3 separate regions of the Homo sapiens genome follow, and regions 1 and 2 are each linked to region 3. Evidence: fine-mapped expression QTL. A gene starts in region 3. Each other region holds a variant in brackets. All regions are shown on one strand. Distances are between the middles of the regions.

Region 1 (10,418 bases), 340 kb before region 3:
CTGATACTTGCCAAAGTTTGAGAACCACTGGATTAATGAAACCTAAAGACTGTCTTGATGGTTTACTTTATCCAGTGATTTCAGGACTTCCGTCATACACAAGTTTGGTAATATCATAGCCAGTTATCTCACATGAATTTTACTTTTTCGTCTTTCCCATCTTACCCCCAGGTAGAAGTGTAAATAATGAAGGACAGAGATGAGACAGCAAAATGTTGGGAACAATCAGGAACAGATAAGTCACAGTTTCTTTAGAAGCTAAATACCTAACACCTTTGGCCAATGCACAGTTCTCTGTAAGTCTGTCAGGTTTCAAAAATGAGTAATGTTAATTCATAAAATTAGTTAATTCTATCGCATGCTATGAGTAAATAAAGGGTAAAATATGACAGGGACGTTTCATTGATTTGCTTTGGGCAACAGAATTAGTAGAAATAGAACAAGATGATATTGCTCTTGTATTATTAAATGGTCCCCAAAGAGTGAGTCTTGGGAGAATTGAGCTGATCTGAAGAGAAGGGATTACAAGTAAATTTGGAGATTTTTACCACAGATTCCATTTTCAAATAGATGGTGTTTAATTCTGCAGCAAAAATATGAGAGCCTGTCTCTTCTTCAGAACCCCTTTGCCTTTCAAACCTGATGCAGGAATCCTGTAAATAAACCTAATACACTGTTTGAGAGTGAGATAGCTTTGAAATATAAAGCCAAGAATTTTATTCAAGCCACCTGCTAAGGCAGATCTTGAATTTGCAGCAAGGTAAAGTGAGGAGGTGAGAGATCCAGCCAACTGAACTGGAACAAATATTTCCACAAACAATAAGCCCAATTTAAAGTTAATACAAAATTTGACTTTTAAAAAAAGTTGAATTTCCAAAGGTTACATTTTGCCCTTTTCTGTAGATGCACTTTCATGATTTAGATCATTATCAGCACAATCACAATTCTTTCCAATTTAAAAATGGGTTTCTTTATGCCTTTCCAAGATGGTGCCAAAACTCTGTTTTCCAATTGGCAAGGTTGGCTAAAACTTCACTTCCTAAAGAAAAGATATTAGAATAAAGCTGCATGGCAACAGTTTTTAAATACCAAGTTTAGGAACATTTATTTAACATAGTTGCATTCTCTTTTGTGACTTATTGTAATGATGGCGTTTTCAACAAGATAGGTAAGTGAATACGTATAAGTTTTCATAATAATCAAAATTCAGTGAGCACTTACTAGACGCCTGACATTGAGTCCTTTTAATTGTGTGATTTAATTTTCAAAAATTCTCGAAGTAGGAATGATTATTACTCCCCATTTAATAAGTGAGGAAGTTGAAGCTTAGGGAGGTAACGTAAGTTGTTGTCCCTGCAGTCATTGGCAAAGTAGGGATTAGGACCACTACTATCTCTCTCCAAGGCCCACTCATCTGAACCCCACCATGGAGCAATGTTCCCCCGAAGCATCACTTGATCTCTCAGGTCTTGTTTTTTAGTTATTGCCTATCCAAAATGAACTCTTTTCTACTAATGAACAGGCTGGAAGCCTGTCCCCTAAACCTGGCAACATCCTTTTAACATCATGGCTATGTCTGATAAGTGCTTCATCTCTCACAATCTGTGATTCTTAGTCTCATCCTCATAGCCCAAATCCTTGCTGACTATAGCCTCTGGCCTCAGGTATGTTGCTGCCCAGAGCTCAGCCCTTCCTTGTTCTTCCTGGCCTTGAGTCACCCTTATGGAAATAAATAGACACTGGAAACTGATCTCTGCTAATTTGTCTTGGATTTGCTCCATTATTCTGAAGCACATTTATACTAGGCAGGGCTCAGCTACTCTTATTAGTCATCTAATCCTTTACCTGGTCCAGTCTTGCTAGTTTTAAAATGGCCTCAAAAATCAACCACCTCTCAGCCCTTCCTCAAGCTGACCTGAATTACAGTGACAGGCCTTTTCAGCAGAAAGACATATCCATCTTTTCCTGGTTAAGGGCCTTTTATATTCCTATAGGATATCCCATTAAGTTCCTGTATCTAACCTAAGAGAAACTGCTTATTTTCAGCTAGTTTAAAAACAAGGGCATACATTTAACAAATTAGACCATGTGCTGTTTTCTGAACTAGTTCCCTGAGTTTCGTTTATTTCATTCTATCTCACAACCAGCCCTGAGACAAGGCTTGACCAATTGAGACTTAGAAGCATATAGCTTGCCCATTATCACACTGCTAACATGTGGTGAAGCCAAGATGTAAACCCAGGCCATCTAACCACTGAGCCCATGATCTTACCATTCCTCCATGCTATTTCCCAGAGCCATCCAGAGCAGATGAATCCTCAGCCCTCAAAATCTACCAAGATCTGCTACACTCATTCTCCCTATTCCATCCCATAGGTATCTGCTGTCCCTAACCACAGGAAATTAGACTTCTGCTAATTATTATGATTCTCTTAAAACATCAAAATACTATGTTTAAAAGAAAACAGATGTTTCCTCCCATCTTGTGCTATTACAGTCCATGAAAAGCAAATAGGGGCAGGAGAGCTGTTTTATAGGCCTTTCTATAGGACATTGTCTTTTTTTCCCCTGCCTCTATTCCTACTCTTCTTAATACCACTCAACTTCTAAAAGATTTCTGTTCCCTATACTCTCCTCATTTTGTGTTTTGAATGGGCAGAAAGACTGGAGCAAAGACTTATCTGAATTGTGATTCTTCCATTTATCAATATTTGTGCAGCCTAATTCCTTATATCACCAAAGCTGAAGAACATCGTAATAAGTATTTGAAATGACTCTTGCTACAGCTTATGTTATCAACTGAATATTTCTGAAAGCCTATGTCCTTAGCTGCATGCTACTTCATTCAAACAGGACTTATGCTGCAACAGGTGTTCAGTTTCAACAGAAACAGAATTCGACTGCAGAAGTCAACCACATTCTTTCAAAGGAAAGTGCAACTACACCTCTTGAAATGTTGAATTATCACTGACTTTTTATCCTCCAGTCTATCCCTACATTTTTCCATCTACACATCATCCAAGTATTTCTTCAGACACCTACTGAATACTTTCTGCCAACTACTGTGCTTAAGTGTTGGGTATAGAAACACAAATAGACATAAGCACTGAAACACAAGAGCTCACAATACAATGAGAAAAATAGACACAAACTAAAGGTTTTAACACTGTATGACAGTGTTTTAGTAGGATGCGAGATGCTAAATGAACAAAAGGAATAGCAATTTACCTTGAGTCAAGTAGGGATAGGAGAAGGGAAACAGCTTCATTGTGGGCATGATATCTAAACACTCTTTAATAAGAGGTTGTTGGTGACTGAATGGTTAACAGTGACGAGGAAGGACAATTCTCAAATACCTAACTAGTCCAACTTAGTATACATCAATGCTCTCAACCTAGATTGCGGAAATATAAAGGATGTTGAAGTGCTACAATGCTGAGTATAACTTTGGACATACCGAGTTTGAGGTGTGTATGTTACATCTAGGTGATTTATCAGAGGTCCAGTTGTATTTATGGGAGTAAATATTAAAAAAATCATGTTTTGCTTATATTGATCTTCCCAATTGTTTCATGTAGGGTGATGTTCTGCATACTGTAGGTGTATAACATGTTTGATTTTGTCCTTTCATATTCCTTACTGTTTTTACAAAGATTAAATCCATACACAAAAGTTCAATAAATTTACCAAAAAATTTCTCAGAATAAGACCTTTAAAATCAATATTAATATCCTTTTAATAATCTAAGATATTTTTAATAATCTAAGATATAACGTCATCAACAAGTATTTTACTTGAATAGAAAATAACCTTCCTTGGTTAAGTAGGGAATAGTTAAGTAATTAGCAATCTTTTACCCTTCAGAATGGTGAACTTCCTGAGGTAAGATAGAAATAAAATAAATGCTATTTTGTAACAGCTTGCTTTAAAAACAAATAATAGTATTGTCAAAAGTGAAAAATAATATAAAACAAGTAGGGGACACATTGCAGATGACATGACATAGTAAATGTCTTAGAATGTTAACTTGTGGAGGCCGGGCATACGATTAAAGAAGAGAATTAGGATTTGACTGTGTGTTCTGAATTCATATATTTACAATATGCATGGAGAGAGAGATCAATTTTCACATTGTATGTCTTTTTTCAAAAAAGCTGATCATCTACTAACAAAAATTAATGACACATAAATGGCAGTTCATGAAAATCCAAATCACAAAGCAATCTGTCATTGGATTAAAAATAATGCAAATGTCATGGGACCGCTGGCTAAGCTAAATAGAATAAAATAAGCCAAATCCATCTGGAAGGTGATTTTGAAATAAAAGAACTGAGGTGTTTACTTTGATTACTTCAAATGGCTTAGAAATGCCTGGAAGAAGGAACCAGTTCCATTTGGGCCTTGCTATTTTATTTTCATTTTTGTAAGTCAGAGCCAATAACACTAATGAGTTTGATAATGCTAAAATATTTCCCTAAATATGTGTAAAGTCCACTTTAGCCTTTTGCAATATTTTAAAATGGGAATAGCATAGCTTTAACATATAAGAACAAGAACGATTTTAAGGGGGTTGTTCTAAACATGTTCAGACCTAGAGTAGGTTTTCAGGGTAGGAAATTTTGATGGGAGAATTGGCAATAAATTGAAAGCAAACACCTCAAGGAAACTGGAATCTTTCCACTGGAGCTGGTCATTTATTTATATTTAAACTGTTATCTCCCTCAAAGGAGTCACATATTGCTTGCAAGGAAAAAAAAATTTTGCTACAAGTCAGCTTTGCTGTTAATGAATTAGAGGTTAGAAACCCAGAGCATTGGAGCCTATTATCCTCCAAGAAGAACATTTCATGTTTTAAAAATCCATGAGGCTTTGAAGACCTATTTGATGTCCTTAGAAACTGTGACATGTTTGAAATATCTTGAAATACCTGCGTACATTTTCCAGAGTCTATATCAATAACACTTTTTAAAAACCTCTAGAAAGTCCAGGGTAATAAATAACTCAAGCAAACAAAGACATGGTGAAAAGGTTCAGCCTAATCACATCTTTTCCCACTTAAGTTATCTCAGAATGTTTATATGTTCACAGAAAGACATTTCCTTGATAGCAAGCTCTCATTTCTGTGTTGGAGTCTACTCACTCTTTCTCATCAAACAAATTCTCATCCATAGTGTCCATGGCAGGCATTATTAATCACTCAGGCACCTTGCTCCTTCAGAATCTGCTAAGTAGTGTGGGAAAGGAAACTTATTTACCTCCCAAGAGCAGACATTTTAACAGGGTTGTCCAAAAAAACTTGATTCTGTTTATGGCACAGATATATCATCCATTGTATCACGACTTCTGTATTTGAATTGTTTGATTTCTATTGTTTGTTAGCTATCAAATATTGTCTGATACTGACTTTTTTGTTTTTTTGTTTTTTTTTGAGATGTTATCTCGCTGTCACCCAGGCTGGAGTGCAGTGGCACAATCTCGGCTCACTGCAACCTCCGCCTACCGGGTTCAAGCGATTCTCCTACCTCAGCCTCCTGAGTAGCTGGGATTACAGATGTGTGCCACCACGCCTGGCTAATTTGTGTATTTTTAGTAGAGATGGGGGTTTCACCATGTTGGTCAGGCTGGTCTTGAACTCCTGACCTCATGATCTGCCCACCTCGACCTCCCAAAGTGCTGGAATTACAGGCGTGAGCCACCGCGCCCGGCCGACAAATATTTTTATCTAAAGGATGTTGCATTTATGCTTTTATTTCCACAGCTGATTTTACAGACATATTGTGCACTTTTTTGTACTAATACCATATTATGAGTTGCTAATTAATGAAATCATTAAGGAGAAGATTTAAGTATTAACAGAAATGCAAAACATTTTGGGGATGATTTTAAATCAGGTGATAAAAATTGGTTGCATATTTTAACAAGGAAGGATGGTGTTAGAGGTAAAAGTGACCATCACAGATATGTTGTATTTATTGTTAAAAACACAGACACACACACACACACACACACACACATCAAGGCTGGGCATGGTGGTTCATGCCTATAATCCCAGCATTTTAGGAGGCCGAGGTGGGCGGATCACTTGAGGTCAGGAGATCGAGACCAGTCTGGCCAACATGGTGAAACCCCATCTCTACCAAAAATACAAAAATTAGCCTGGCGTGGTGGCAGGTGCCTGTAATCCCAACTACTGGGGAGGCTGAGGCAGGAGAATCACTTGAACCCAGGAGGCGGAGGTTGTAGTGAGCTGAGATGGAGCCACTGCACTCCACCCTGGGTGACAGAAACAGACTGTGTCTCAAAACAAACAAAACCACATTAAAAGAGTTAATATTACAACACATACTGATCCCTGATAAGTGAAATTCTGTGCGATAACTCCTAAAGAGTTTCAAATTCCATTTGATAACAGGATCTTGTAAAGCAAATATTTTACAGCTCTAAGTAGTGGATCAATTACACAGAAAAGAGGACAA[G/AG]AGGTCTGTTATCTTTTCTTCAGGGCTTCCTTAAGTAATGCCAGAGAACCAGCCAGTGCTGAAGGCCAGTTGTGAGGAAATCTGTATGGAATGGCTCAAGATTAAATTGGCAAAGACCTTGGCAGGAAGGCACTGCAGGCTGTCAGGCTAAGAAAAAATTCTCCACAGCCTTGCTGAGGAATTTACCACTTGGCTCTTTGGTAACTTTCTCAACTGGACATATTTTGTGTCTTCATTTTTAATTCATTTACATAGGTAGTAGTGCTTCATAGTCGGCCAGTCCACTGATTAACTGTCTTCATTTGCATTTTTTCAATTATGGGTAAGTAAACCTTGGGGACGCCCATGAAATCTTAATTATAGTCAACAAATTTCCTAAATATGGCTTAGAGCCATTTTTTTTCTCACCAATAAAGGTGAAACAGTTTTTGCTCAACCCGAAACAAGGCATTCTTTCTAACATGGAAATCTCAAAGATAAGTGGGAGTACTGACAGGTTGGCCCTTGGAAAGTTCGGAACAGGGCCACCTGTTTATCCAGGTAGTCCCCACCTTCTTTTCCTATACTTACTCTTTCCTTGCCTTCCTTTCAGCACCCTCGCTTATCCCAACCCTTCAGGATCTCCTGCCAGAGACCTCCTCTAAGTTATTGGTTTCCATGTAACAAAAAAATCATGAGGAATTATGCAACAAAGAGAAGAGCCAATGGGCTTTCAGGCACCCCCCCCATAATTGGGAAATATTCTTGGGCAGACAGTCCTTATGTCACATGAATACATAAGGCATTAACTGTTGATCTTGTCTCTGATTCTGTGCATCAGCATGTCTTGACCACCCAAGGTTTATGTCTCATAAATAATTATGCAAGGAGCTAAGCCTCCTTTTTGCCTTACCGATAGGAGAGCCAGCTAGCAGAGCATCACTACCTTTGATCCCTCTATTTCTACCCTTCTCCCTCCCTAGGTGATATCATCATGACCAGAAGACAAATGTAAGAGGAACAATTATCTAGGAACCCATGAGAAATATGTTTTCATAAAATGGATCAAAGTCACTAAATGACCCCACCCTTTCTGAACTGCCTAACCTTGTATGAACATGGTATCTGCTGCTAAGTACTGAAGGCCATTTAATAACTTGCAAAATGGCTCCTACCCTCCAGCATGCAATGCATAATCACTGAGAGAAAAGTAGACTAGAAGAGTCAAAGGCTGCGGTTTGGGTGCAGGTTGGTGGAGTACTATGCCTGGAAAATTAGCAAAATCTGAAGATCTGGAACGATCCTTCCTCATTCTTTCACTTCTCTTCTCATCTAAGCCCTAGGAGCTATGTTCTAATGTGGCATTATTCATATGTTGGGGGAAGTAAACACCCATGCAGCCTGTGATCCTCTCCTCATCAGGTGTATGGAAATAACTAGTCAAAGGCTCTGTTGCTACCGAGGTCCAGGATGAGGAGAGAGCAGAGAGATTCCGTTCCCAGTGAATGTTTGCTGCCTCTCCTTGGGACCCCAGCCCCTTTTGTTCCTGTGATCACCTCTTCCCCACCTCTTTCTTCCTCTCCTGTGCACTCTCTGTCACTGGTAATTCATTCTTACATGCATGTTTTCATCTCTCCTACTGAGGGAAACCTGGACTCTAGACTTAAAGCCTGAGTTCAAACCTTGACTGGATGGATCACTAACTACACGATCTTGAACAACCACTAAACTTACCTCTACCTCATAAAAGTTCTTTAAAATTAAAAATGAAAATAGCACTTTCTAGTATTATAAAGCATTAAATGAGATAATGCCACTGAAGTTGAGTGCCTGGCACATGGTAAGCCCTTAATACATCTCAGCTTTTATTATTATTATGACCCATCTTTCCTTAAATCACCAGGTGAGTCCAAACATGGTCTTAAAAAATTTATGTTTCTCTTTTCCTACATCTTCATCCTTCTTTTCCTTTCAAAGTTTCCCCCATTCAGCATTTTAGATTTTTTTAAACTCTCTTCTTACTGAAGCTACCACCATCTTGGCTTGGTCTCAGTGCCTGAATATTACAGTTTTAGGGATAAGGAATGGAGAAGTTCATGAGGGGAATAGGAAAATACCAACACTTATGTATCTTTTCTAGCACTACTGAATCCTTTAGATGGAATAAAGGGGTAGTCAAGACTGAGTGCAAGAAAACATAGGAATTTTATGTAAAAATGTGACACCTAAAATATCTAAGAACATTTAGGACTTGGTAAGGAATATTGATAATAGAGAGTCAAGGTGGCTCTACTAGAAGGTGTAGGAAAGGCAATCTAGCCTGGGAAGCTGATGTTTAAACATGTAATTTGGGAAGCATCAAAATAAATAGTCTATATAAAATATTTTATACGACCACTTCAAGGACCTTAAATTCCCCAAATTCCAGCTATTCATTTTGGTTAAGAATATCATTTATAAATATCTCATATTAAAAACCAAATGGTGTTACCTGGTAAAGGATGACACCACCTTACCTCATTCGATTCTCAGGTATACACTGTTAGACCCCAGCTGAGATCCCTCACTACCCCTAAAAGGGAGCCCCCTTCTTGTTTGGAAGTGCCTACCAAACACTGAAGGCCAAATCTCCCAAAGCTCTGTGTTTATCTCCTTCAAAACACAAACACTTGGGTTCCCTAGCACTGTTTCCTAAATCTTTAACTGTATTTTGCTACAAAGTGGGTTATAAATGCATAATTTTTAATCTTTTATTCGGTCTTAAACCACTGAAGCCAGCACCTGCCATCTCTAACTAAGACTGACCTTATCTCAGCATCTAAGTCTACCAATAAATTCCCAGTTTCGAATCTACATATTCTTTAGGATTACTTGAAAATCTCATCCAACTAGCTTTCCAGAACATAAGTACAACAATCTTGCTGCCTTTGGTCCTGCTCTGCACACATTTACTAACCAAATAAAGTAGCAAATGGCAGGTTATATGAAAAGACCTTCCAAAGAACAAATCCAAGGTTATTGAAAAGGACAGTGCCTGGGCTAATGGGTGTAAAAGCCAGGAAAAGGCAAGAAGATATATATCAAAAAAAAAAAAAAAAAAAGCAATGGGCATCCTTAAGACAACCCATACTTGTCAATACTCTAAGCCCTTTCTAGAACCAATAAAACAAGGATGATTAGTGTGTGACACATTTACTGCCATTTCTTCATTGGTATCCTTAACAGATATGCCCAATCAATCAGGTCCTTTTTTCCTACTGATCCTAGCCATGGTCTCAGCATTCTTCTCAACACATAGCTCAGTCAAACACTAGCAATTGATGAGAGTTAGCAATCATCATAAAACCATTTACCATATCCAGTGTGGGCCTTCTAACTAACAGAACTGCACAGGAGAGGGCTATGATTTGACTCATGTCACCTGTGCAATCATTGCTCCAATTAAGAGTATATTAATATCACTTCTACCTCTAATATAATTTCTCCTCACATAATTCATAACGAATGAGCTCTTAACTATAGCACAGAAAATTGAAGTAAAATGTTAGACACATATGTAGCTATATAAAATAATTCACTACATTAACCTAAAATTTCAACTCTTTTTTCATTACAGAAATTAGAATTAAGAGGAAATGCTATCATCATTTAAGGGCTCATAAGAGGTCTTTAGTATAATAGTTTAAAAATCAGTAATTTTAACTAAATTAGTTTTAAATTTGAGCAGTCGATCCATGGGTTTTTAATAATTGAACTTTTTCTGTCTTCTTTAAAATATTTTTTGAGTTGACACAGAATAATGCCCTCCAAATCATTTTCTTTTTTCCTGGTCACTGCTTTTTCCATTGTGAGCTGTAAATCCACCACTAACATTAACACACATTCAAATAATTTTCAAATGATTACTGTGTACACGATCACAGATGCAGGTAGGGGTTTCCTATTACTTTTAACAATGAGTTG
Region 2 (10,418 bases), 120 kb before region 3:
ATGTTACCTGGTAGTATTTACATTATGTGCATAGTTAATTCAAGCACTGCAACAGACCTTTGACATAAAAATACTAAATGTCCTTGGACTCCACCAACTTGCAAGCAAGCTTGAAAGTCTGCGGCATTTAGTAATTTGAACAGATATGAACGATGCAAACTGTGCAGGTGAAGACTCGTGAAGCTGGTGGGTGAGCTTAGTTCACTGCCCAATATCAGTACCTGAAAGCAGTTTGCATGATCTGTTCCACTAGTATATAAGAATTCTTCTGCAGTAATATGTATTACTTTCAGGGTATGTGCAGTAAAATAAAGCTGTTCTCTAAAATGTGATTTCAGAGATATGAAATTTAATGCCTATACAATTACGCCAACATCAGCAGCTAACATTTTTAAACAATTACTTTGGGGACAGAAACTGTACTAAATAATTACATGAAGGATCAGACTTTAGGCTGTACAGATACCTTGAATAAGAGCCTGGGGGCAGTGTGGCACAGTGGCTAAGAATGTGGTCTCTGGAGTCTGGGATACTCGGGCTTATGCATGGATTCTGCCTCTTTCTAGCTATGTGACATTGGGTCAATTATTAAACTTCTTAAAACCTCAGGTTTCTCATCTGTAATTTGAAGTAAAAAATAATGGCTACTTCATAAGGTTGTCAGAAGCATTAAATAAGGTTATAAATAGTTAATTTTAAAACCCTAGCTTTATATCTAAATAGTTATTAAGAGTCTAAGGGGGGGCCTTGAACTTTTCTGCAATGCTTTATTGTGTATTATAGAAAACCTTACAAAATATGGTAGGGTTTAAGAATTGGGGAATTCTTAAATTACGGAGGAGAATAGTACTGGAATATATACTTCTTAAATGACAAAATTTACTGTAAGTTTAACATAAGTGAGCTGAACAAAATAGCTCTTATAGAGTATTATTATTTACAGAATTGCTATGGCTCAATTGATTAGAGAAACTTCAGTAACTCAGTTGTAGTTCAAATATTATTAGCTGTATTGAGGAAGGCAGCAAGGAGAAAAAGGGGTATGAAAATATTGGGTTTGTCTTAAAAAAATGCATGGAGGTCCAATTCCATCAATGTAGTTTTTTGTTGTTGTTTTGTTTTGTTTTTGAGATAGCGTCTCACTCTGTCACCCAGGCTGAAGTGCAGTGGCATGATCATCATCAATATAGTTGTTGATGCAATTTTTCTAGATTTTCTTTTTAGTTCATGGTTTGAAACAAGGCCCTGGAACATACAAAACTCTTACATTTATTTAAACCCAGGACATTTGTGTAGGGGTTTTAGGACCACATCTATCAGACAACTGAAGCCAGAGCCAACTGAGAAACAGTCTGGGATTGTAGGCTATGTTTTATTAAAGTTTCAACTGATTATGTCACTGCAGCTTATCAAAATATGGATTCATCCCAGACTCTTCTCTGTCTCACACATCCCAACATCCAATATCTCAGCTCAACCTTCAAAATACAGGAAAATTGAGCCGCATCTTCCCACTGACCTTGCCTCTCTTCTAGTCATAGTACTAATCACTTGCTGGACTATTGCAATATCATTGGACATATTCTTCTTTCTTTGCTTTTTATTACTCTATATTTTCCATCAAGCAGCACTGTGAACTTTTAAAAATGGAAGTCAGATTATGTCATGCCTTTGTTCAAAACCTTCCAATGAACTCAATATCTGAGTAAACTACAAAATCTTTATACCCAGCTCTCAATTTAATCTCTGTAATTTTTCCTCTCATTCTCGGCTCCAGTCACACTGGTCTCTTTGTTTTCTACCAAACTTGCAAAGCACACTGCTGCCCTGGGGTCTTTGGACTTGTTTTTTTCACAGTCTGGAATGTTCTTCCACTCCCTTCACATCTCCATTTAATAGTCATCTTAGAAGGGAAGACTTTCCCGACCTCACATGCCCTCCTCCTTCATTCTTTATCATCCTACTCTGTTTAATTTTGTGCTACAGCACATAGTTCTGCCTTACATAGTATACACTTACCTCTCCCTTTCTTATCTTTCCCAAGAGAATGCATGTCCCATGAGAGCAGGAACTTCCTCTGATTTGTTCATGGTTATGTTGCCAGCAACTAGACCAGCATCAGCACATGGGCCTCTCAGGAAATATTGCTGAATGCAGCATTGTGCAAGGGGAAGGATTAATTGAGAAGAGCAATTTACTCAAGGGTGAAAGGAAGGCACTCTGGTGCTGAACTGATGGATGATCACATTAGTGATTCTGAGTATTAGGGTTTGACTCTGACTTCCAAGCCCTGAATTTCCAGTAGATACAGCTTCTCATCCTTCATGGGGCACTGCTATCAGGAGTAACTAAGTCAAGAAGATGAAGCAAAGAATTGAGATTCCCTTGTCTAACTCATCATTGCTATGGCTTCAGTGCTGTACTTTACTTTGTCAGATAGAGCCAGCTCCCTCTCTCACATCCACTAGCTGAGGATGAGAACCCAAAGCATGCTTGTCAGGCAGAGGACAGGAAAGGAATGATAGTGGAGTTAGGGACACAACTTTGGGAGCCTCTTGAGAGAGTTAATTCAACTCAGGGAGCCTCGTAGCAAACAGCAGGTGTTTTCTACTTGGTACAAATAGTATTTCTTCACATTAGTTCTTCACAGATTTGAAATTTCTTCTTGGTAATAAATTAGACAATTAAAAAAGTACAATGCCTCTTTACTGCTGATCTCCAAGGTGACCTTTAGGATCCTACAACTGTGCTATAGAAATATATTCCCTCAGGGGCCCAAAAGCTGGCAACATCACTGGCTACATTTATTATTTTATTCTCTTTTAAGCACCATCTCTTTCTTGAATACCTGCTATATGCTAGGTGCTTGGCTAGGAGCTGGGTTGTAGTTAGGATTCAATTAGACCTGATCTCTTTCCTAAAGGAATTGGTAAACTAAGCAGAAGAACTAGCATACAGTTGTAGAGCTGAATGGTTACAATCCTAAAGTAAAAGGGATGTCATGAAGTGAAAGACGTAAGGAACTGATCCCACCTGGGGCCATGATATTCAGGCTGAAAGCTGAACAATGCCTAGAAACTAGAGGAAAGGATAGAGTGGGGAATGCATCAGGAAACAAACAACACAAGCATAGGTCTAGGATGGGAGGGAGTATGACACATTTAACAAGCAAAAGATGGCAAGTGTGGCTGATTCCTTGTTGGGGGTGGTGGAGGAAGGAGGGGACAGGACGGTGAGCCTGAAGACTGAAGAGAAGGTCAAATCCTGAAAGCCACGTAAGCTTCTTTACAATGTTGGTCTTTAACCTGATAAGAAGAGGAAGTCTCTGAATGGCCTCAGGCAGGGAAATTATATGATTTTATTTGCATTATTAGAAATTCACTCTGACTGCTCTGTGCAGAAGGGACTGTAGAGGGCCAGGCAGATAAAAGAGGCCTGTGGGGAGGCCACTGCAGTTGCCTGCACAATAGAATGTGTGGCTTGCACTCAGGTGTGCATGGTAGAGATGGGAGGAGAAGGGAAAGCAGGCAGGTTGACTGAGCAGGCAAGCAATGGAAGGAATAAAACAAGTTCAGAGGCCCAAAATAGCTATGTTGATCTTGCATCTCATTTTCAAGATTAGCTTTTATTTTCATTGTGGCGATGCATATTTTGTACCCAAATTACACCCACTCCACCCCAGCCCTGACCGAACTGCTTTGCTGCTGAGTTGCCATAATTTGTATTCCATTTCTCCAGAAGGCTTAGACGTGAGGTACCACAGGTGTTTCTGGATCAGCTCGGCATACCCTCAGGGTCGGCCCCACCCTGAAGTCCTTAGCTAATCTTTAGAAGGGCATGATTCTGAAGATGAGAGGAAATTACTAATAATTATTTTATCTAGTTCTACAGATGATACTTCCTATAGTGACTTTACATCATAGTTGACCTGTTAAATTCTAATCAACACACCCCAGTGGAAGTTTCCCCAAATTTTATTAAATGTTTTAAATATTGTGGAGAAAACAACAACAACAACAACAAAAGCTTCTCAAAATTTCACTTGTTAAAGCAATTATGAGAACCCATATTATTTTTCCTATGAACATTTTACTAATATTTTATATATACTAAAACTGTCCTTGCTGAGGACTTTTCTAAGGTTCTCAAGTTCTGTAGGTTGTAAAAGGGCCCAATCACTTCATAGACTCTATTTTTATGAATGTCAAACTTGGAAAAAATGGCACACAAATACAAGGGAAAAAAAACCCATAAAATAGATAGCAAACTGAATATACTATCATTAAACTCAAGAAAAATGTTGAAGGACTAAAACCATCATCACTGATTCATAGATTGATTATTTCACATATTTATGAATGATTCTTATGTGATTAATGGAAATGTAGAGATTCATCAGAGGTTTTCAAACAGAGATCAAAGGCGCCCTGGGAAGGATTGGAAGGTTGTGCTTAATGGGGAGAAGAGGCATTAAGTGAGGGAATTGTAGGAAGTAGACCTCCAAGCTTGTTATTTCAGTTCAGTCAGAACTGTTTTTATTGATTTATTCATTTATTTTTTTGAGGTATGTAAGTCGCAAAATTTCCACTGGATAAAAAGATGTCTGACTAAAAATACTAACAACAAAAACAACAACAACAAAACACCATAAACTTATCTAAATGAGCCCTCTCAGGAATTTGCGCTTCTTGACATGACGGAGTAGCCTACAAGAGACCCACTTGCCTGCTGAGAACCACTAGAAATACACAATAAAAGCAATTTGCTTGAAAGCAAAGGAGAGCTGCCAAAGATGTCAAAACTTAAACTACATCAAAAAGAGAGGCTCATTGAGGGGAGCCTAACCTTCCGCCTGTCACTCCAGTCACCCTCGCCGGGATTTGCTAATTCTTAGTGTTGAAGGAGAATCTGAGAAGTCAGAAAGAAGGTCGCTGCTGAGAGGAAGAGAATTCCTTGGAGTTTTCAGCAATCTCATAGGGCTGAGGAGGCAGAAAATGGAGCTGAGCACAGCCCCGCTGAGGCAGCCAACTTGGACTTAAGATCCCATAGAGAAGAGAGGTTCAAAGAAGCGAGCTTGGAGCTTCATCCCCAGTTTTTCCCCAAGGCGTTTGACAGTCAGTTAAGTTGCAAATAGCAACAGGCAAGAAGCAAATTGAGACCATCCAAAAAGCAAGGCAAAGCAAACTCAGTCTCGTGGTGTTAAAAAACAAAAATTGGGGTTTGTGATTTCACAAATAAGGTGACACATCTGATCCTCAGTTGGCCACCCTGGAAGATTATTCTTCAGGACTGTGGTGAAAGAAGGGTAAGCTAAACTTTAGAAGTGCTACAACCTAGGTTCAAGTCACTTTGATCTTTGATTGTAATGAAATGGTCTGCCTCTCTGCTGCCCAACAGAAAATAGGGTGAATCCTCTCTGGAAGGAGAACACATTATCCAGACCCTCTATATCTGTCCACACACATGTTTGCCATTCAATCCAATATCACCCAGCATATCAAAAAACACAATCACAAGAAAAATTAATAAAAACAGACAAGCAATAAAGTCTGTCTCCATTTTCAAAGCCTCATAGAGTCCCATAATAGTTCACTTAAACATGTCTAAATTCAATAATAT[G/A]AAACATGGCACATTCCAGTCATCAGTCAGACAATAAGGGTGAACTGTAATGAACAGTGCTAGTCTATTTTGAATGTTTGCTGGGCCGGGCACGGTGGCTCACGCCTGTAATCCCAGCACTTTGGGAGGCCAAGGAGGGCAGATCACAAAGTCAGGAGTTTGAGACCAGCCTGGCCAACATAGTGAAACCCCGTCTCTACTAAAAATACAAAAATTAGCTGGGCCTGCTGGCGGGTGCCTGTAATCCAAGCTACTTGGGAGGCTGAGGCAGGAGAATTGCTGGAACCCGGGAGGTGGAGGTTGCAGTGAGCAGAGATTGCGCCACTGCACTCCAGCCCAGGCGACAGTGCGAGACTCCATCTCAAAAAAAAAAAGAACGTTTGCTGACAGTTTTTAAGTCAGTCCTACCCTTCCCCCATTTCCCTTTTGTCCCCAAAATGGGCAAACTGATAAGAGGGGCCACCTTTTTATTGCTATTGGGAAATACAAACCACTCAAATCCTGGCTGTCACATAGAAATCCTGATCCCAGCCACATGCCCTAACATGATAAAAACTAAACCCACTTATTCTTCTCTTTGTTTGAACCATTATGAACTGGCATGGTTGCCTGCTCTGCTGTCCCTGAAGTCCCATTACATGAGCAATAAACCTGTCTGGACCCTCTTGGTGGGTGTGTTGCATCATCAATATTAACATCCCAGTGGATTTTGGATGTGTTGGGGGCTGCCATCTGTGGAGCCGCCCCAAAACAAAAACAAAATTGATCCAAACATTGGAGTTCTTTGACTTAGGCTTTTGAAATAACTGTGATTAATATTTTTTTAAAGGAGATGACCTGATAATAAATTTTACTAGAGAATTGGAGTCCCTTTAAAAAAGAATCAACTAGAAATTTAAAAAAAAATTGAACTCAATATATAAGTTTTGAGTATATTGGACCCACATGGATAAGTGAACTTAAAATTAGAGCAGTAGAAAATAACCAGACTTAAGCATAGATTAGAGGGAAATTTATATCCTTAAATGAGTACAGCACTAAAATAAGAAAGGCAAGAAATTAATGACATGATTATCCATTCCAATAAGTTAGAAAAGAAGAAGTAAGTTTTACTGGAAGAAAGCAGGAAAAAACCAAAAAGAACTATAAAGAGAGCAGAGATAAATAAAATAGAATACAAACAAATCTATAAAGCTGAAAGCTTATTTTTAAAATTGATAAACTATCTGCAAAACTAATCAAGGAAAAAAGAGAGCATACTAATTAGCTAAATGAGGAGTGGGGAAAAAAGAAACCGTACTGCAGATCCTTATACATCTAACAAAAAATACAAATGTATTATGGACAATTTTATGCCAGTAAATTAGAAAATTAAATGACAAATTCCTAGAAGGCAAATTAACAAAACTGACCTTAAAAGAAATTTAAAAAAATTAAATAGTCATATGATTTTAAACCTTTCCACACTCACATTGTTTTATCAGTGAATTCTACCAAACATTTAAAAAATAAATGAGGCTCATCTTATACATTCACTTCCAAAAAATAGAAGGAAGAAAAAATTTTCAATTCATTTTTTAAGGGAAAGCATAACTTTGATATCAATTCCTCTGAAAGAGAATAAAGGAGACGAGAAAATCATCTCAACATCTGCAGAGAAAGCATTTGATACAATTCTATAGTTATTCATAGTTTTTTAAAAGTATTTTGGCAAATGGGTACTAGAACTAGCTTGACCTAATTAAAGTATCTGAAAGAAACATAGAGCAAGCAATATAATTAATGGGAAAGAACTGAAATTTCCCCACTGAGATCCAGAAATCACAAAAATATTTATCACCACAATATTGTACTGTAGGTCCTAGCTAGTACTATAATGCAAGGAAAAAAAAAAAAACAAACTATAAGTATTGGGAAAGAAGAAATACACTTATATGGTTTGGCTGTGTTCCTATTCAATCTCACCTTGAGTCGTAATAATCTTCATGTGTCAAGGGTGGTGCCAGGTGGAGATAACTGAATCGTGGAGGTGGTTTTCCCCATACTGTTCTCCTGGTAGTGAATAAGTCTCATGAGATCTGATGGTTTTATAAAGGGGACTTCCCCTGTACAAGTTCTCTTGCCTGCTGCCATGTAAGATGTGTCTTTCCTCTTCCTTTGCCTTCCGCCACGATTGTGAGGCCTCCCCACATATGTGTAACTGTGAGTCAATTAAACTTCTTTCATTTATAAATTACCCAGTCTTGCATATGATATGTCTTTATTAGCAGCATGAGAACAGACTAATACAACAGTCATAATTTGCAGGCACATGACTATGTACATAGAAAATCCAAAAGGAAATTATCAAAATTTTAGAATTAGTAACTGAATTTATCAAGTTCAATGGATATAAAATCAATATACAAACCGACTTTTTCATATTACAGACACAGAAACTAAGAAAGGTGCCCATATCCACACACTTTTCAAAACTAGAAAAAGGCTAACACTCAGCTCGGTGGTTCAAGTTTGGGTTTTTTTTTTTTTTTTTTGTATATATGCAAACTTGTAGATTTCAGTTACTCCCTAGTCACACAGAGGCCAGACCACACACTAGCCCCTGTATCTCCTAGGCATCAAGACATTAAAATGCTGCTGGCCACAGTGACCATCCATGGGAAATGAAGGGAATACCTGATGGAGGCAAAGTGCAGTTTTCTGAAATGTGGAGCTGCAAGTAATCTAAGCTTTCAGCTTGTCACAAGTTGAGGATCAAGAATCACATGTAGTGAACAGATTTACCTACAATGGAACCTAAAGACAGAATAAGGGGAGAGGGTGGATGTGTCCAGCGCCTGTCACAGGAGAAAGGAGAATGAGTGGAAAAAGCTGGGTCTTTGGCCCCAGTCTCATATTTACACAAGATGTTAAGTTTGAAATTCAAATATGTCCTGCAAATGAAGTAAAGGCACTAATAGGACTGAAAGTAGATGTTTATCACACAACTTGAAATCCATGTCCCATTCTTCATCCAGAGTGTCTACAACACACCATCAATGAATATTTTCAGTAAACTCTGCAGTTATCTTGTAAATGTTGTAATTATACAGATGGGATGGTATATTTATATGCTAACATTATTTTATTACATGTGAATATTTAAAGCTTTGTAGCACCCATCAGCATTATTTTTTTTTCCTCCTCCTCTTTCTTCCCTTCCTTCTGTACCCATATCCTCCTCCTTCTCCGCCTTCCCCTTCTCAAAATACGAAAGTGATCAGAGCTTCCAAGGTCAACCTTGGAAAGACTCTGGATCCCTAAATAGCTAAGTGAACTCTCCGAGCATGTAGGTGGAATGTGAAGGGTGATAGAAGGCTTGCCTGATATGAGAGAACAGAGCCAGAAAAACTGCTTTGATATTGTATTACCCTAGTTTTAGCTCTAGGCTGGTATTTTCTCAAGACATTGGGGTTACAGCAGGAAGTTCAAAGCTTCCATTATTGTGGCCAAGGCTTTTGCACATAGAACCTGCTGACTGCTGTCATGGATGATGGCTCAGCCTGTATCCTAGAGAAGCAGAGGCTTGATGTAGGACTTCCTGTTGGCTGGGTGACTTCAGCCCGAGGCACCTGCAGTGCTGGATTAACCAAGGCGCAAACTAAGCAGGTGCTTAGCATGCAACTAAATCGAACACCACCCCCATCACCCACTCCAGGAAAAGCAGAGAGGATTTCACATTTAAAGAACTTTCTGAGGATTTTGATTTTTCCATCCAAATGAAAAAAAAAAGAACTTATTTTCCTTTCAGCTTGCATTTAAGTTTTCTGTCATTTTAAGTGATTTTATTTTATTATGAATTAAAGTGGGAATGCATCACAGTGGTGGTGGTGGTGGTGGTAGGATTAAGTGCTCAGAGCCTGTAAAAGTTTAACCTGGCCCTAATAACCATTCCCTAAATTTTCCAGGATCCATCCTCATCCCTCCTGGGCTCTTGTTCTCTAGCACACATATTTTGTTGTGCAACAACTCTATTTTCTATTGTATTTAGCCCCACATCACTAATCCTACCTTTGCCAGGCTGTTCGTTTTCAGCTCCTAAATTTAGGCAGCCTAGTTGTCATTTACTTTGTACAATATTTTTTTTCAATATTACCCCATAAAATTTTGCATTTATAAAACAACTCCCACAGATTCCTCTAACACATAAAATATACTTACAATGCTTAACTTACCCTAGTACTGCCCCAAGATCTTCCACCAAAAGTTCAAACATCTCTTTGGGGAAGGTGGGTTTTTTTTTTTTTTTTTTTTTTTTTTTTTCACAAGTTCCCAGTGTGGACAGCATCTAGGCACCACTGGGTGGAGTGGACAGGGGTTTGAGGTGGGAAAAAAGGGAGAAGTGTCCTAGGCCTCCATTCAGAAATTTTAATTTACTCCCTCAAATCAAAACTGGTATTCAGCACTCCAGAGTTCCCTTCCACTTCTTTTGTTTCAGCTCCTGCTTGTTGTTCAGGAAAAATGGCAGATATGTTTCAGAGCATGCTTAGAATTGTGAGACAGATAAAAGAAAGATGATTCGTAGCTTGATTCCTTCGAAAGGGGGTACAGTAATCAGAAAGTAAAGGAAAGAATGATTCCAGGACTTTATTTCTCCAAAAATACAATAGAATATCTCTCTAGTGAAATTCTAAGAGCCATATGCAGAGATTGAACCCATCGGTAAACTCTAGTCTTCAGGCCCCTCCACACTTACCTCTACCAGTTTGTTGGCATGCTCACGGAAAACTTGGGCATATTCTTTCACTTCCTTTTCATTT
Region 3 (10,418 bases):
TCAGGCCTACACTTTTGAGTGGCCAAACTCTATTAGAGTTTGTTCATTTAATCTTTGTGACTTCTGTGTTTCTCTATTTACATTTTTTTTTTTTTGAGATGTGGTAGCTGGGTGTGGTGGCGGGCGCCTGTAATCCCAGCTACTTGGGAGGCTGAGGCAGGATAATCACTTGAACCCGGGAGAAGGAGGTTGCAGTGACCCGAGATCATGCCACTGCACTCCAGCCTGGGTGACCGTGCGAGACTCCGTCTCAAAAACAAAAAAAAATGTAAATAGAGAAACACAGAAGTGACAAAAATTAAATGAACAAACTCTATAGAGTTTACATGATTTCATTTAATTACCCCAAGTATCCTCTGAGATAGCCATCCTTAGCCCTATTTCACTGACCAAGAAGTGACTTGTATAGGGTTATACCGATTAAAAAGTGGCAAAGCAGAAATCCCAACAAGGTCTTTTTATTCTTTATCTCCAAGATGTTTAATGTCCCTTTCAGTTTTAAAATACTATCATTAGAAATTATTGCCACACTCATATAAAGTGAACAGGACCACAAGATTGATAAAAGTAAGCTGCTAATGGAGTTCAGAAGAAGAAAAAGGGATTGCTTTATAGAGGGCAGGGGCCTCGGAGTCAGTTAAGAAATCATAGAGGAGATTTGCCATCAACCTTGAAGGATAGTTAAAATGAAGGTAAGCAAAGATGGAGAGAATATAAAAACATAGGTAAGCATAACATGGCATAATCAGAGCACCAGTATGTTCTCTACACCAGTATAGAGAAAACCTGTGGAGAGGGAGGACAGGCCTCATGAACTGGCATTTCTTTCTTTTCTTTCTCTCTCTCTCTCTCTTTTTTTTCTTTTTTCCTTTTTCTGAGACAGAGTCTCACTCTGTTGTCCAGGCTGGAATGCAGTGGCGTGATCTCGGCTCACTGCAACCTCCACCTCCCAGGTTCAAGTGATTCTCCTGCCTCAGCCTCCTGAGTAGCTGGGATTACAGGCACCCACCACCACGCCTGGCTAATTTTTGTAGTTTTAGTAGAGAGGGGGTTTCACAGGTTTCACCATGTTGGCCAGGCTGGCCTCAAACTCCTGACCTCAGATGATCTGCCCACCTCAGCCTCCCAAAGTGCTGGGATTACAGGCATGAGTCACCATGCCCAGGAGAACTTGCATTTCTATTTATTATTATTAATTCATTTATTATTTCTTTTATTATTTATTCTCATCATTTACATCATTCATAGAGCATGGCAGTTAGTTTCTTATTGCTATCCATGTTACCACGTTGCTTTAAGAGTTGGACAAAGTTTGATAAGTAGAATGACCTCAATTTCTAATTTGTTTCTCCTAAGTGGATCTCCTGAGAGCAGCCTTGGGGCCCCCACCCTCAGCCTCTCCATGCACCTTTTGAGCATTCTGTAAAATGCCAGCTGTATGGTATGTGCCCACAGAAACAACAAAGTTAATTCTCTCTTTTTGAAATTGTGACTCCCACTCTCCGCCAATTCTTCTAAAGGTTTCCTTTTAAAGAAAAGCCATGGTTCGCTGCCACTGAAAATTAAAGACAACAGCATAAAGATCAAGGTCCAGGCTGGTGCTAGCGATGACAGAACATTAAAATAATCACTCAAATTTCCTTCCTTGAACATTGACAAAGATTGCTAATGGAAAGCCAATCCCCAGAATGCAGATTCATTTCAGACTTTCTGCACTTGCACCTCTGTGTTCACAAATTATTTTGACTAAAATGAACAAATTGGAAGTGTTGAGATAAAACAGAAGTAATGACATACCAAAAAAAAAATTGTATGTTACTCCCCCACTCCACTTCACAACATAGAGTACCACGAAAAACAGGAGGGCTCATTAGGCAAAGGCTAATTTACAAGGTTGAAGAGAGAAGGAATTAATCGACTCTTCCCTCCGTCAAGCTATACTTCTGGCCTCTCTAACTACAACGAATTTGCTCCATGAGCTTCTCTCTTCTACCTCCCCTTAGTTCCAGATTATGTTTGGCCATCAGATTCATAACTCATATAACCCAGACTTCCTTCCCATTTGCTGAATCCATATTTTCAAGATTCTTATCATTTCTTACCCCAAACTGGAGGTCTGGCCTCAGTGCCCAATCACATGTTGGCATGATGGCTTGGGATGGTATTCTTGATGCCCAACTATTAGTACTAGACTTGCAGCTATAGCGGTTCAGCTAGATGAGCTCAGGTTCCTTCCCCTGACAAACATGGAAAATGTCAAGGGTATTTTCAAAGCATATAAAGCATCTCTTATCCAATATACAACATTTGAAGAAGAAGTTTGCCAACAGAAATCTATGGTCACCCGGGAAGAAGAGATTGATCCAGTACATGCAATAGCTACATTGTAACCTGGTGAATCAGATATTTTCAAAAGACAGGTACAGACATATGAGAGAATAAGCAGGAGGAAAGAAAAAAAACTTCAGGTGAGCTTTTTTTTTCTTTTTTTCCTTTTTTAGTTCATTGGACACTTACAGGCATGAAATTAAAACTCATGAAAAACAGCCATATCGACTTGCTGTGGTGACTCAAAAGTTGTCGTTTCTCGATTCAACTTTGCTGAAACACTCGATTCATGTTGTTCTTATTTAACCTAATTTGCATTGATTTAATCAGTGCTGGTATGCTTTAAATACATAATAAATTGGGATTCTGCAACTTAGATGACTTAGAATAGCTAAATTTCAATAAAGCTCATTTCAATCTGTTAATGTATACGGTTCTGCCAAGGGGTTTAAAACTGTAGAAAAGATGCAAACTTGCCACATTAGAGGTGGGAAAGGCTTAAAGATACCATATAGATGAAATGATTTGCAGGATAATAATGCAAAAAGCAATATATAGAAAATATATATTTATATATAATATATATATATAATTTATTTATTTTAATTACAGCCTAGGAGCATCTTGTAAGTTTTGAGTAGCACACTTAGAAGAAAACTCACATATAAATCAGTGAATTTAATTTTATTCCCTTTCTTTCTTGCCAACACTCAACTCTTCTGCCTCTCTGCACCAGCTCTACAAATCAAGTGACATCCAAAGTGGGACCTCTTCTTGCCCATTTGGCAGCCTCTGTCACCACTTTGCCAAGCAGCCAGCATTAGGAGGATTTTTTTTTTTCCTAGCAACCCTAGGGATTGGGTGGTGTGTACTCACAGTACTCGCTGAATGGCTGGCCGCTGTTTAACCCTGCGGGTGCCTCCTCAACACCCCTCCCCCACCTCCCAACCCTTTAGAGTTTATGGCTCCATCAGCTGGCCTGCTGTCACGAATAATTGTCTTGGCAAGAGGTGAAACCACTTGATGGTGAATTTGTTTGTCTGTCTGTTAAAGTGTTCCGCAGCACCTTGGAGGTGCCAGGATGAAACATGCAAATGCCTGATCCAGAGTTAGGTAGGCAGCAAGAGTGACAGAGAGGCAATCATCAAGAATGGCAAATTAAGAAAGAAAGAAAGAGAGAGAGAGAAAGAAAGAAAGAAAGAAAGAAAGAAAGAAAGAAAGAAAGAAAGAAAGAAAAGAAAAGAAAAGAAAAGAAAAGAAAGAAAGAAAGAAAAAACCATCTGTGCCAGTTGCAAGCTGTATGACCTTGGATAAACCATGATGTCTCTTGGCCTCAGTTTAGTCACGTGCAAAATTAAGGGGGTTGATTTTCTAATGTCTCTTCTAACTCCTAAGACAGCATGTGATGTCTAGGACATTTCAGATTTGTGTTCCTTCCAATTAAATGATACATCTCAGAGATGAATGACCAGGGCAGAGCTCAGATGAATACAAAATGGAATGATTCATGCCCCTGTTCATATGACTTTTCCTGAAAAGTACCACCAGTCTTTGGTGACTTTGATTCCATTGGTTGGCCTCTTCAGCTTAGATGCTAAGGACCAATCCAGTTACTTGTCCAGTCTATCTACCCTGGCTCTGGTAATCCACCCTCATTCCTATCAAAGTAAGTGCCACTACATATAATGCCTACTGATTTTGACTTCCTTAGAGGCAGAAACGATGGGAATTCAAACAGTGGAGCTGGAGACTCACATTTGACTCTCCCTACCATCTCCCTGGGCATCTTTGTCAAGAAGGAAGGCTTGCCCACACTCACTTCCCGCAGGCTTTCTCAGCCATCTTGGAGGACTTTGTTTAAACAGATGACCAACTGACCCTCCCCAGGGCAGACCCTCTACAGACCAGTAGGCACAAGGTGTGTGTGTGGGGAGGTGGGGGGAGAGCTCATTGTAAGGACTCCTATCTATAAATGATTATGAATAGAAATAATGAGGCAAAGGCTTCTCGTCATACTCAGAGGAAAAAGTGGCACAACTTAGTGCAGTCTCAAAGATTAATTAGGATGTGTGTATGGAGACGGGTAGGCTTCATTATGGCTTAAACTATCACGTCCCTACACATTCACACTCTCTTGGAGTGGGGTGCACTGCAGGGCCCAGTAATCACCATGAACAGCACAAGTCAGGGTAAGCCCTCCCCATGTCAGACAGTACAATCGTTCTTTAATCCACTCTGTACCCCATATGTATCTGTGGAGCCTGATGAAGCCCCGGAGGGATCTCAGTCAAGTCTCCCTGCACACAGACATACCTTTTTGCCACACTGGATCTCACACCACCGGGACTTGGATGGCTTCCCAAACTAGGTGGGTTTGGAAAGCATTTCCCCTCTCCACCTCAAAAAAGGGCTGGCTGACTGCAGAATTCCAGTACCCGCAAGAGGGGGAAAAAACCCCAAAAATCTTAGCCAAGCCCCAAATCATTGCCTTCCTGTGTCTTCTCTCAAGTTGCTTTTCTAAAGCAAAGGTCCAAACGTTGATTTCTCTACAGATTCCTACGTATCTCTTACACGTAGACAGTTTTAAAGGGGAAAAGAATATATCCCCAAAAGGCAAGGGGGAGAGCACAGAACATTTCAGTTTCCCACTTGGAAATATCTTGTCGTGGATGATGCTACCCCTACCTCCACCTCCCTCCCCCCTCCTTTTTTTTTTTTTTTTTTTTTTTGAAATATGGACAAAAAAGCTGAAAGTGTTTTCCGTTTCATCAAAAAACATATATTACTTTAGTGGTTCGGTAAAATGTTGGTTTTATGCCCACCCCTTTTCAATCTGCCCATGTCTGAGGTGCTCGGGGAAGACGCACAATCGTGAGCAGCTTACGACACTCAGTGAGCAGTAGGTGCCTGTGCAAGCTCGCGCCGCACACTGCCTGGTGGAGGGAAGGAGCCCGGGCGCCGCTCGCCGCTCCCCGCGCCGCCGTCCGCACCTCCCCACCGCCCGCCGCCCGCCGCCCGCCGCCCGCAAAGCATGAGTGAGCCCGCTCTCTGCAGCTGCCCGGGGCGCGAATGGCAGGCTGTTTCCGCGGAGTAAAAGGTGGCGCCGGTCAGTGGTCGTTTCCAATGACGGACATTAACCAGACTGTCAGATCCTGGGGAGTCGCGAGCCCCGAGTTTGGAGTTTTTTCCCCCCACAACGTCACAGTCCGAACTGCAGAGGGAAAGGAAGGCGGCAGGAAGGCGAAGCTCGGGCTCCGGCACGTAGTTGGGAAACTTGCGGGTCCTAGAAGTCGCCTCCCCGCCTTGCCGGCCGCCCTTGCAGCCCCGAGCCGAGCAGCAAAGTGAGACATTGTGCGCCTGCCAGATCCGCCGGCCGCGGACCGGGGCTGCCTCGGAAACACAGAGGGGTCTTCTCTCGCCCTGCATATAATTAGCCTGCACACAAAGGGAGCAGCTGAATGGAGGTTGTCACTCTCTGGAAAAGGGTGGGTAAGACACTTTTTAATTAAATTCTTTCCCGAAGATTTTTTTTTTCCTCCCTTTTCTTTGCTGCAGCATCTAACATGGACCAAATCACCATCTCTTTGATCTTTCCGTGGCTGTGAACTTTCTATGCTGCCCAGCTTTCTGCATGCTTAGAGGTGAACGTGTGGTTTTTGGGGAGGGGGGTCCTTCTTTATTTCTATGTATTTATTTGATTTTTTGCCCTTTTCTCCCCCTCCCCCGCTTCCCCTCCCTCGGAATAAAATATGATGTAGATTTCTGACCGAGCGCTTCCAATGGACATTCTCCAGTCTCTCTGGAAAGATTCTCGCTAATGGATTTCCTGCTGCTCGGTCTCTGTCTATACTGGCTGCTGAGGAGGCCCTCGGGGGTGGTCTTGTGTCTGCTGGGGGCCTGCTTTCAGATGCTGCCCGCCGCCCCCAGCGGGTGCCCGCAGCTGTGCCGGTGCGAGGGGCGGCTGCTGTACTGCGAGGCGCTCAACCTCACCGAGGCGCCCCACAACCTGTCCGGCCTGCTGGGCTTGTCCCTGCGCTACAACAGCCTCTCGGAGCTGCGCGCCGGCCAGTTCACGGGGTTAATGCAGCTCACGTGGCTCTATCTGGATCACAATCACATCTGCTCCGTGCAGGGGGACGCCTTTCAGAAACTGCGCCGAGTTAAGGAACTCACGCTGAGTTCCAACCAGATCACCCAACTGCCCAACACCACCTTCCGGCCCATGCCCAACCTGCGCAGCGTGGACCTCTCGTACAACAAGCTGCAGGCGCTCGCGCCCGACCTCTTCCACGGGCTGCGGAAGCTCACCACGCTGCATATGCGGGCCAACGCCATCCAGTTTGTGCCCGTGCGCATCTTCCAGGACTGCCGCAGCCTCAAGTTTCTCGACATCGGATACAATCAGCTCAAGAGTCTGGCGCGCAACTCTTTCGCCGGCTTGTTTAAGCTCACCGAGCTGCACCTCGAGCACAACGACTTGGTCAAGGTGAACTTCGCCCACTTCCCGCGCCTCATCTCCCTGCACTCGCTCTGCCTGCGGAGGAACAAGGTGGCCATTGTGGTCAGCTCGCTGGACTGGGTTTGGAACCTGGAGAAAATGGACTTGTCGGGCAACGAGATCGAGTACATGGAGCCCCATGTGTTCGAGACCGTGCCGCACCTGCAGTCCCTGCAGCTGGACTCCAACCGCCTCACCTACATCGAGCCCCGGATCCTCAACTCTTGGAAGTCCCTGACAAGCATCACCCTGGCCGGGAACCTGTGGGATTGCGGGCGCAACGTGTGTGCCCTAGCCTCGTGGCTCAACAACTTCCAGGGGCGCTACGATGGCAACTTGCAGTGCGCCAGCCCGGAGTACGCACAGGGCGAGGACGTCCTGGACGCCGTGTACGCCTTCCACCTGTGCGAGGATGGGGCCGAGCCCACCAGCGGCCACCTGCTCTCGGCCGTCACCAACCGCAGTGATCTGGGGCCCCCTGCCAGCTCGGCCACCACGCTCGCGGACGGCGGGGAGGGGCAGCACGACGGCACATTCGAGCCTGCCACCGTGGCTCTTCCAGGCGGCGAGCACGCCGAGAACGCCGTGCAGATCCACAAGGTGGTCACGGGCACCATGGCCCTCATCTTCTCCTTCCTCATCGTGGTCCTGGTGCTCTACGTGTCCTGGAAGTGTTTCCCAGCCAGCCTCAGGCAGCTCAGACAGTGCTTTGTCACGCAGCGCAGGAAGCAAAAGCAGAAACAGACCATGCATCAGATGGCTGCCATGTCTGCCCAGGAATACTACGTTGATTACAAACCGAACCACATTGAGGGAGCCCTGGTGATCATCAACGAGTATGGCTCGTGTACCTGCCACCAGCAGCCCGCGAGGGAATGCGAGGTGTGATTGTCCCAGTGGCTCTCAACCCATGCGCTACCAAATACGCCTGGGCAGCCGGGACGGGCCGGCGGGCACCAGGCTGGGGTCTCCTTGTCTGTGCTCTGATATGCTCCTTGACTGAAACTTTAAGGGGATCTCTCCCAGAGACTTGACATTTTAGCTTTATTGTGTCTTAAAAACAAAAGCGAATTAAAACACAACAAAAAACCCCACCCCACAACCTTCAGGACAGTCTATCTTAAATTTCATATGAGAACTCCTTCCTCCCTTTGAAGATCTGTCCATATTCAGGAATCTGAGAGTGTAAAAAAGGTACCAATCATTGATTTTTTTTTTTTTTGTAAACTAAAATGTTTAAAATAAAATAGCATTTACAGTTTTTACAGACTGGTGTAACCTAAATGAATTGTTACCTGTGTTACAAGAAAAGCAACAGTTAAAATTTCCTTGGTGGGTGGGGAGGGAGTTGTCCAGGGGCCAGAAGGAAAATCCAGGAGCAACGTAGTCAGATTCAATTTGAAATTTTAAAGAAGGGCAAAGAAAGCTTATCAGATTAATGATTTATGTTAATTTACTCCACATGTGTAAGGACTAGAAAAAGAAAAACTGCAAGACCCTTTATATTACTGGGGCAGGGACAGTGCAATCTAACCACCTTCAGGCAACTGAGAGGTGGACTGAGGACTGGGCACCCTTACTCAGCCTTTAAAGCAGAGAGCATTGCAAATGGTTTTTAAAAAGCAATGCCAGACAGTTTCTCCTAGGAACACGAAACATTTTTGCACTTAATGTAACCATCTTTCAAATCACCTCAAAATCTCATCCCCAAATGCCACCTGTTCTTAATTCTCCTGAGTCTTTGATTCACCAGACTTAGTAGCATTTGTGCCCTTCTTGTACCCCCTGTTAAAGGGAGCCCCTCAGCTCACTGCTCTCTTTGGTCTGGCTGAGGGGAAGGAGGCAGAATCCCGATGTTTAGGGCTGAAAGCTGTGCTTCTGGAGCACATTGCTAAGACTGCAGCAAGCTTAGGCTCCCAAACAGTGACAGCACATTCCTAGTTTCTATGGGGAATGAGGAGAAAAACCTACCTTAGGATGAATGCCTGCAGGGTAATGACTTGTAGCAAGAGACTTTAGGGGCAGAGGTGACAGAGCAGTGATGGGGTGGGGAGAGTGGGAGAAGATACTCATTTGATCCTGTGTTTGCATATTTCTGAGATGGGAATAATTTGTTAACCCAGGACAGAAAAGCTGCCTCTTCTCAGATGGCCCTTTTGTGTAATGCTTGCTTTCCCTTTTTTTTTTTTCTGTGTTGAGAGTGATGATTGCTCCTTCTCACCCCTCATAGGTTTCCAGGTCCATCATTGAGATTTCAGTTTCTATTGAACTAAAGAGTGAGGAGGTGGTGGTAGTGGCAGTTGGTGGGTGCAGAGAAGGGAAGGGGAAGGCTGTGTGCATTGGACGGAGGGCTCCTTCATCAGATGACAATTTAAGCAAATGTATGATTGAAATAAACTGTCATGGATGACAGATGCTGAACCAATGTAGCCCATGTCCCTAAGTCTTTCTCTTCCCTCTCTAACGGACACTAAAGAGTTGCATCTTTCTGTTTTTATTTTTCCTTTTTTTTGAGAGAGAGAAGTCCAAATAGCAGGAAGAGGGAATGGGGGGATGGGGAACCACACACTACCATCCCCCAACATGCAAATGTCTCCAGCTACCAATCTTAGGAGGCAAAATCAGCTTTTTGAAATGCAGAATGGTATCACCAGAAGGTTTCCTTAAGCTAAGGGTTGGTGGTAGGTTTCTCTTTTACCTATGGAGAAACCAGTATGCCTAAAAATAGTATTTCTAAGAGTCTCTTTCAAGAGAAATATTTTGCAAATGTCTTTTAAGATGTTAAGCCCTGGGAGACAGCTTCTTACACACACACACACACACACACACACACACACACACACACACACACACACACCCCAACACCCCAGCTCATTTTTCCTGGCCAGGAAACTTCATCTTGCTTTATTTATAATTAAAACATGACATTATGACACACATCATGCACATGACACCCATTCAGACTATTAGTGTTCTAGAAGAGAGGTGCTTTGTTTGATAACTTTGAGGAGGGGGTTTTGAATTTAAGCATAATCATTTGGGTTTGCCTTTCTAAATAGCATACCACTCCAAGAGCAGGGGTAGCAGGAAAAAGATTCTCTCAGGGATGTGCCTTACCTAAAACCCTACTAAAGCGACCTCCTCTAGAAGACGGCATACCTTTTTTAGAAAACAAAAAATGTAGCAACTGAAGGAGGGCTCCTTGGATTCCGTGAACTTAACCATCTCATAGGAAGGCTACAGGAATCCAGCGCCCAAAGCTGCTTTGGCTTGGTGCATTAAAGAGCTGTGTGGGTGTGCTTACAGGGAAAGCTTTCAGAAGCAAAACCTTTCTGGCAAGCATCAGAACCACAAGTCCCCTCCTACCCTCTAGAAATCTGAATATTGGAAACTGTAGTTTATCTCCTATCCCCAAGACATTTTTATCTTTCACTCTTCTTGTTTCAAGGTGGCCATAAGACAGAGAGAGAATAATCGTGCTTTGTTTTATGCTACTCCTCCCACCCTGCCCATGATTAAACATCATGTATGTAGAAGATCTTAAGTCCATACGCATTTCATGAAGAACCATTGGAAAGAGGAATCTGCAATC

Which allele goes with the higher level. Alleles are on the strand shown, and positions count from the first base shown. SD is a standard deviation of normalised expression in the study named. Not every link is listed here.
As copies of A replace G in region 2, the expression in esophagus muscle of the gene that starts at base 5,213 in region 3 goes up (small effect, 0.20 SD a copy in GTEx).

What was found. PIP is the estimated chance that this variant, and not a neighbour inherited with it, causes the effect.
Region 1: its variant is the best candidate, but not a certain one, in a credible set for the expression of LRRTM1 in lung (TOPMed, PIP 0.71).
Region 2: its variant is the best candidate, but not a certain one, in a credible set for the expression of LRRTM1 in esophagus muscle (GTEx, PIP 0.75).

What each region holds. Positions count from the first base shown.
Region 1 is chr2:80,635,110-80,645,527 of GRCh38, reverse strand. All of the region lies in intron 18 of CTNNA2 (catenin alpha 2), which reads right to left. Among named protein-coding and RNA genes, the nearest start is that of LRRTM1, 340 kb to the right of the region's middle. The variant G/AG (reference allele first, on the strand shown) is at 6,477.
Region 2 is chr2:80,419,538-80,429,955 of GRCh38, reverse strand. It overlaps CTNNA2 (catenin alpha 2), which reads right to left. Exons shown (of 19, transcript NM_001282597.3): 9 at 10,355-10,418. Among named protein-coding and RNA genes, the nearest start is that of LRRTM1, 120 kb to the right of the region's middle. The variant G/A (reference allele first, on the strand shown) is at 5,620.
Region 3 is chr2:80,299,547-80,309,964 of GRCh38, reverse strand. LRRTM1 (leucine rich repeat transmembrane neuronal 1) reads left to right here and starts at 5,213. Exons shown (of 2, transcript NM_178839.5): 1 at 5,213-5,813; 2 at 6,087-8,087. The coding sequence starts at 6,146. The coding sequence ends at 7,714. The region is part of intron 7 of CTNNA2 (catenin alpha 2); the gene reads right to left. RefSeq lists an enhancer at 5,771-6,396.